Linked DNA regions of Homo sapiens. The protein of the gene in region 2 interacts with the protein of the main gene of each other region in a pairwise test. Each region holds a gene or a part of one and is shown on either strand. Other genes may lie near its edges. The genes, in order: EIF1AD and RBAK.

Evidence for each region.
Region 1: the proteins of RBAK (region 2) and EIF1AD interact in binary tests that used the Homo sapiens proteins (3 or more experiments, as listed by UniProt).

Annotation. Positions count from the first base shown.
Region 1 is NC_000011.10:65,996,045-65,999,157, forward strand, and holds the end of EIF1AD (probable RNA-binding protein EIF1AD), read right to left. Parts: intron 2,700-3,113; coding exon 2,555-2,699; 3' UTR 501-2,554; downstream 1-500.
Region 2 is NC_000007.14:5,052,042-5,056,069, reverse strand, and holds part of RBAK (RB-associated KRAB zinc finger protein), read right to left. Parts: intron 1-4,028. UniProt on the Homo sapiens protein: May repress E2F-dependent transcription. May promote AR-dependent transcription.

The DNA.
Region 1 (3,113 bases), on a different chromosome or scaffold from region 2:
GACAGATTAGAAATTCCAAAAAAGATCCATATATATGCAGGAATTTATGTTTTAAAAGATATTTCTGGCCAGGCGTGGTGGCTCATGCCTGTAATCCCAGCACTTTGGGAGACCAAGGCAGGCAGATCACGAGGTCAGGAGACTGAGACCATCCTGGCTAACAACGGTGAAACCCCATCTCTACTAAAAATACAAAAAATTAGCCGGGCGTGGTGGTGGGTGCCTGTAGTCCCAGCTACTCAGGAGGCTGAGGCAGGAGAATGGCGTGAACCCGGGAGGCAGAGCTTGCAGTGAGCCGAGATGGCGCCACTGCACTCCAGCCTGGGCAACAGAGCGAGACTCCGTCTCAAAAAAAAAAAAAAAGAAATATTTCCAGTGAGCAAAGAATGAACCTTTCAAGAAATAGTACAGGGACAAGTGACTTTCCCTTTAGGGAAAGTTTGCTACCTCTCAGAAAAAACAAACTTCAGATGAATTAAAGATAGATACACACACATACATATCTTTAACCCATCTCGTTTATTTTTTGTATATACATCTACATACATTTTATACATTATATTCATATATACATATATACAAATGTATATATGTTTAAAGCCACGCTATAAGAGAAAGTAAATGAGAAACAGACAAATGAAGTGGTAGCTGGAGGACGTGGGAATCAGTACAGGTTTTCACGCCTGTTTCAGAAATGGGAGATTCTACAGCACGCTCGACACTAACACATCACATCCATAACATATCACATCCAATAGACAGGACAGCCAAAAACACAAAACAAAAAAAGAATCAAATACCCACACCCAGACACAATACTCAACAACACAAATACCCGACCAAAGTCTTTAAGAAAGCAAAAGAGGCCGGGCACAGTGGCTCACACCTGTAATCCCAGCACTCTAGGAGGCCAAGGTGGGTGGACCACTTGAGGTCAGGAGTTCGAGACCAGCCTGGCCAACATGGCAAAACCTCGTCTCTACTGAAAATATAAAAATTAGCCAGGCATGGTGGCACACGCCTGTAATCCCAGCAGTTTGGGAGGCTGAGGCAGGAGGCTCATTTAAGGTCAGGAGTTCGAGACCAGCCCGGGCAACATGGCAAAACCCCGTCTCTACTAAAAATACAAAAAGTTAGCCAGGTGTGGTGGTGCACGCCTGTAGTCCAAGCTACTCGGGAGGCTGAGGCAGGAGAGTTACTTGAACCCAGTAGGTGAAGGTTACAGTGAGCCGAGATCACACCACTGCACTCCAGCCTGAGCAACACAGGGAGACACTCTCTCAAAAAAAAAAAAAAAAAAAAAAAGATAGTCTCCAAAACACAAGAGGTAAGGTTTAAGTCCCATTGGCTTACGACAGGAAGATATGTGCACATCTGCAGAGCTGGTAACAGGGAGGCAGGCATTCCCTCTGATGGTTGCTGTTTCTTAATGAGGCATGTGTTGTGGTAACTACCACAAGGGGGAATTGATAGATAAGACAGAAGTTTTGAAACAGACATCCCAGAGTAGATCTGCTGGGCAGTGCTTAGTGTCCATCTGAGGTTTGTAATGATAAACGTAAGGTACAACTGGTGGCCAGGCTGGCTGTTTTCTCACCTAATGATGGTGACTTGGGTTTGGGCACAGAGGTGAATGATTGGGTTTACCCAGGGTTAGGGTTTTACTAGCGGAACAGAATGGAGGGAGACAGAGGGGTGTAGGGTGGACTACGGAATTGATGCTACACAAGAGGGAAGTGAAGGCAGAAGGTTACTCATGAGAATGTCAGGGCTGGTTAGAAGAATGAAGGGTGAGGGTGGAAAAGCAGCCTCTATTTAAAAGGTTATAAGACAATCAATGTCCTCAGGGAATAATCAGGTTTCAAATAAAGTCAGGAGATGGATGGACCATTCAAAACAAAGTTAAGGATAGAGAGATTTGCCAGCCACCTTCTGGAAGTGATAGATGGTGCAGAGTGGGAGAGATGAGGTCGTATGTGGGGATGGACACAGTAGCTGGAGGTGAGCACTCCCGTACACAGGGTGACTAGAAAGGCGGGGAGAACAGCACGAGGCACCATGGGCTCCTGAGCGTCTCTTAGAGGCAGGTGGGTGTTAGGTCCTAGGGCTGTCATCCTGAATGCTTAAATTGGTATGAACTGCAAGCAGGCAAGGAAGCAGGAGTGCTCCCAGCTGTTAAACACATGCAAGAAGGCCCAGAGCACGGCCTGGCACTTTCTAAGTGCCCAATAAGAAAGAACAAACCACCTGGGAAAGACTCCAGCCATTTCCCATTTCCTCCCCATTCAGCCCACCCACCCACAAGGTCTCTAATAAATAGGGAGCAGTTTTTCACTTCATCACAATCTCCCTCCCCCGAGAGAGCCACTCAGACACCAGAACAAGTCACCAACCCACCAGGGGTTTAATTCTCTGAATCAAAAGATCAGTTCAGAGAGGAGCCCTGCTTTGTCCTCATGCAGGGGTGAAGATGTGCAGAGCACCCTGGGAATGTCCAAGCCCAGAAGAGCCAGGGGCCAGTCCCTGAGCAAGTGGAGAATTGGGTCCTGGAGTCTCAGGCTGCCTCCTCCTCTTCACTCTCCTCCTCACTCTCATGATACTGTCTGCGGTTTGTGTTAACAAACAGGTCAGAATCATCTTCTGAGCTGGACTCCTCTCCTGATAACTGTGGCTCAGCTGGGAGTTCTGGTTGAGTTTGTCTGCACGAAGGGAAGAGAGCAGGGTTAGCCCAGCGCCTTCTGGGAAAATAATATCTACAATCAAGGAGTTCCAAAAAAAGGACCATCCGGCCCAGCAGTCAGGGCCCTACAGCACCCTTTAAAGACTCAAACAAGGGACACAGGAGAGCAAACAGTGGGGAAACGTGGCCAAAGAAACAGGCTAAAGACTGACCCCACTCCCCAAACGTGTGCCACAGCCATTTGTTTTAGTTAGAAATAATGATTCTACGACCACCAACTAACACTTAATGGACCCATATCACATAACAGATACTGCACTAAGCAATTTTACAAGCCATCCACTTCTTTAATCCTCACAAAGCTCCCATTTTACATATAAGAAAATAGAGTTTGAAGGAATTAAATAACGTGCTTAAAGTCATTCAGCTTTAA
Region 2 (4,028 bases):
CTGCCTTGGCCTCCCAAAGTGTTGGGATTACAGGCTTGAGCCAGCACGCCCTGCCCAAACTTGTAGTTTAGAAAAAGGAAGTGCCCAGTAAGCAGGCTGCATTATCCTATTATTTATAAAGAACATATCAACAAGGGGTTCAAATCCAGTGATACAGCTAGGACCATGTAGATCCCAAGAGATAGCAGAGGCAGGGCCGCTAGGCTGTGGGCTGAGAAACTAAAGCAGAACATCCAAGCTTATCCACAGTCAGGCCACAGGAGCTGATAAAATCACCGAGAGAGAGTAATAACCTTCTGGGTTAAGTTAGTCCAGAAGGCAAGGAGGTAGTAGGGGTTAGAAGACTGATCAACCAATAAATAACATAAAATTACATGCCAATACCACTTACATCAATACAAAAACCCAAAATGAAACATAATCAAACAAAATCCAGTACCAGATTAAAAACATAATATACAATAGCCAAATGGGACTTATTCCAATAATATAGACTAGTTTAATATTTGGAAATCTATTAATATGATAAGCCACTATAACACAGCAAAGAAGAAAAATCTTGTATCCGTGAAGATACCTGAAAAAGCTTGACAGAAAAAGCTGATTTAAAAAAACAAACTAAAGAAAATAGAAACTGATGGATACTTCATTAACATCAATAACATGTATATACACAAATATAAATATTGCACCCTAATATGCAATAGTATGTATGATATATATGTGACATATGTATTTCAATTACACACAAGCACATATATATACAGTTTGTGTGTATATACACGCACGCACACACACACACACACACACACACACACACACATTTATGCCTCAGTCTTCTCGGTCCAAAAGTCAGGATTTTACTTAACAGGGAAAAACTACATACCTTCCTACTAAGATCAAGAACAAGGTATTAATAAAATGCTCATTATCTACAATTAGAGAAGATAAAACAATTAGAGGAATATAACTAAGAAAAAGTAAAAGTGCTCGGGCACGGTGGCTCACGCCTGTAATCTCAACACTTTGGGAGGCCGAGGCGGGCAGATCACCCGAGGTCAGGAGTTCAAGACCAGCCTGGTCAACATGGTGAAACCCCCATCTCTACTAAAAAACAAACAAACAAAAAAAATTAGTTGTATTATTAAGGTCAACTTACCCTACCTAGGGTAAGTCAGTTACCCTAAATTACTTTATAAATATGCAACCCCAGTAAAAATACCAAAAAGCTTTTTCCTGGAACTAGATAAGCTGACACTACAGTTCATATGAGGTGGAAGAAAATCAAAAACAGCTCAGGGAAAAACACCATTTGGACATGGACAAAACTGGATCCAGGCCAGGTGCAGTGGCTCATGCCTGTAATCCCAGCACTCAGGAAACTGAGGCAGAAGGACTGCTTGAGGCCAGGAGTTTGAGACCAGCCTTGGCAACATAGCAAGACCCTGTCTCTACAAAGAAAAAAATATATATATTAGAAAAAATATATATAGAGAGAGACATGAGGACTTCTGCCCTCAGTTGTGATAAACTAACAGGTACTGGATATACCCTCCAACCTGAAATGGCACATAACAAAGAACAGCAGCAACAACAAAATCAAAAACAGAAAGAAAAATAAAACGGAGAACATATATGAAGCAATGGTTTTTTTTTTTTTTTTTGAGGCAAAGTCTCACTCTTGTCTTCTAGGCTGGAGTGCAATGGCACAATCTTGGCTCACTGCAACCTCCGTCTCCCGGGTTCCAGCGATTCTCCTGCCTCAGTCTCCCAAGTAGCTGGGATTACAGGCGTGTACCAGCATGCCTGGCTAATTTTTGTATTTTTAGTATAGAAGGGGTTTCACTATGTTGGCCAGGCTGGTCTCAAACTCCTGACCTTGTGATCTGCCCTCCTTGGCCTCCCAAAGTGCTGTGATTACAGGTATGAGCCACCACGCCCGGGCTGAAGCAATGGTTTTCAAGGCACTGATTATCAGGCAGTAGAGTTATCTATGAGTGATGGGAAATAAACAAGGTGAACCAATCAACTTCTGCCTTGAGTGTTTCCAGGCCACAGAGCAGGGAAGAAGAACAGAGACAGATGTGAGGTGTAAGAGTTGCGAGATGGGAAAATGGGCAGGAAATTACAACCATAAGGAAGAAAAGAATCAGTCCATCAAAACTGGCCCAGAATTGACAGAGTTTACAACCCACACAGAGCACTGAGAGAGTTCATCATTCTATTCCACATGTTCAAAAAAATTGAGACAGGCAAGATGTAAAAAAGACCCACGCTAACCTTCTACAGATAGAAACTACAATATCTGAGATGAAAATTATACTGGACAAGATTAACAGCATCGTGGAAAAAAGAGATTAGTGAATATAAAGACAGCAACAGAAGTTACATAAAATGAAACAGAGAAAAAAGAATTAAAAGCAAATAAAGAGCAACAGTGTGTTGTGGGAAAATTTCAAGTGGCCTAATATACAGGCAACAAGAATCAATGGAGGGGAGGTGGTGGGTATGTGAAGAAATAATGATAAAAATGTTCCCAAAGTGATGACACCATAAACCCAAGATCCAAGAAGTTCAGTGATCCCCAAAACAGAAACATGAAAAAAATGATACCATGACATATTGCAATCAAATTACCCAAAACTAGTGATAAAAAGTTTACAACATAAGGGGGGAAAGAAAAAAAGACATGTTATATACAGGGGAACAAAGATGAATATGAGATCAGATTTCTCTTAGAAAAAAATGTAAGCAGGAAGACAATAGAGAAACATATTTAAAGCACTGTGGAGAAATATCCAGCAGAAACACCTTTAAAAGCTAAGACACAATGAAGACATTTGCAGACGTACAAGAATTCATCAACTAGAAGAAATGTTAAAGAAAGTCCTTGAGGCAGAAGTAAAATGACAGCAAATAAAAATTTAGATTTACACAAAGGAATGAAGAGTACCAGAAATGGTAACTGTGTATTTTCTCTCATTACTTAAATCTTTTTAAAAGATAACTGGGCTGGGTGTGGTGGCTTACACCTGTAATCCCAGCACTTTGGGAGGCTGAGGCAGACAGGTCACCTGAGGTCAGGAGTTTGAGACCAGCCTGGCCAACATGGTGAAACCTCATCTCTACTAAAAATACCAAAATTAGCCGGGTGTGGTGGTGGGTGTCTGTAATCCCAGCTACCCGGGAGGCTGAGGCAGGAGAATCACTTGAACCTGGGAGGCAGAGGTTGCAGTGAGCCAAGATCGCACCCCTGCACTCCAGCCTGGGGGACAGAGTGAGACTCCAACTCAAAATCAATCAATCAATCAATCAATCAATCAATCAAAGATAACTGTTTAATTAACAACAACGTAATAGATTCTGTGTGGCACTGATACCACCTGTAAAAATAAAATGAACAACGGTGTAAAGACCAAGAGGAGAGAAATGAAAGTATCCTATTGTAAGCTTCTCTTACTCTAAGAAAAATGGTATATCACTTAAGAATAAACTATGATAATTAAAGTTGCATACTATAAATTCTAACTCACTAAAATAACAAAACAGTGTGATAGCTAAAAACTCAACAAAAGATATAAAGTAGAATCATAAAAAATTATCAATTAATCAAGAGGAAGGAAGACAAACAAAGACATTTTAAAAAGAAACAAAGAAGATGAGACTAAAAGAAAGCAAAGGCAATGGACTATAACCTAACTAGTTTTATCAATAATTACATTACATGTAAACAGTCTATACATCCCCAATTATGAGGCAGAAATAGACTGATGAAAACAAGCAAGATCCAAATCTTGCTGCCTACAAGAAATAATACTTTAGATATAAAGATGCAAATACGTTATAAGTAAAAGGATGGAATAAGATATACCATGCATGCATTACTCAAAAGAATGCTACATAAATAACAAAGTACATTTCAGCCTGGAATACTAGCAGGGATAAGGAAGGCCATTTTACAAAGTGGTTAATTAATCAACAGGATGTAATAACCTTGAACATTTATGTATCTAATATAATACATAAAG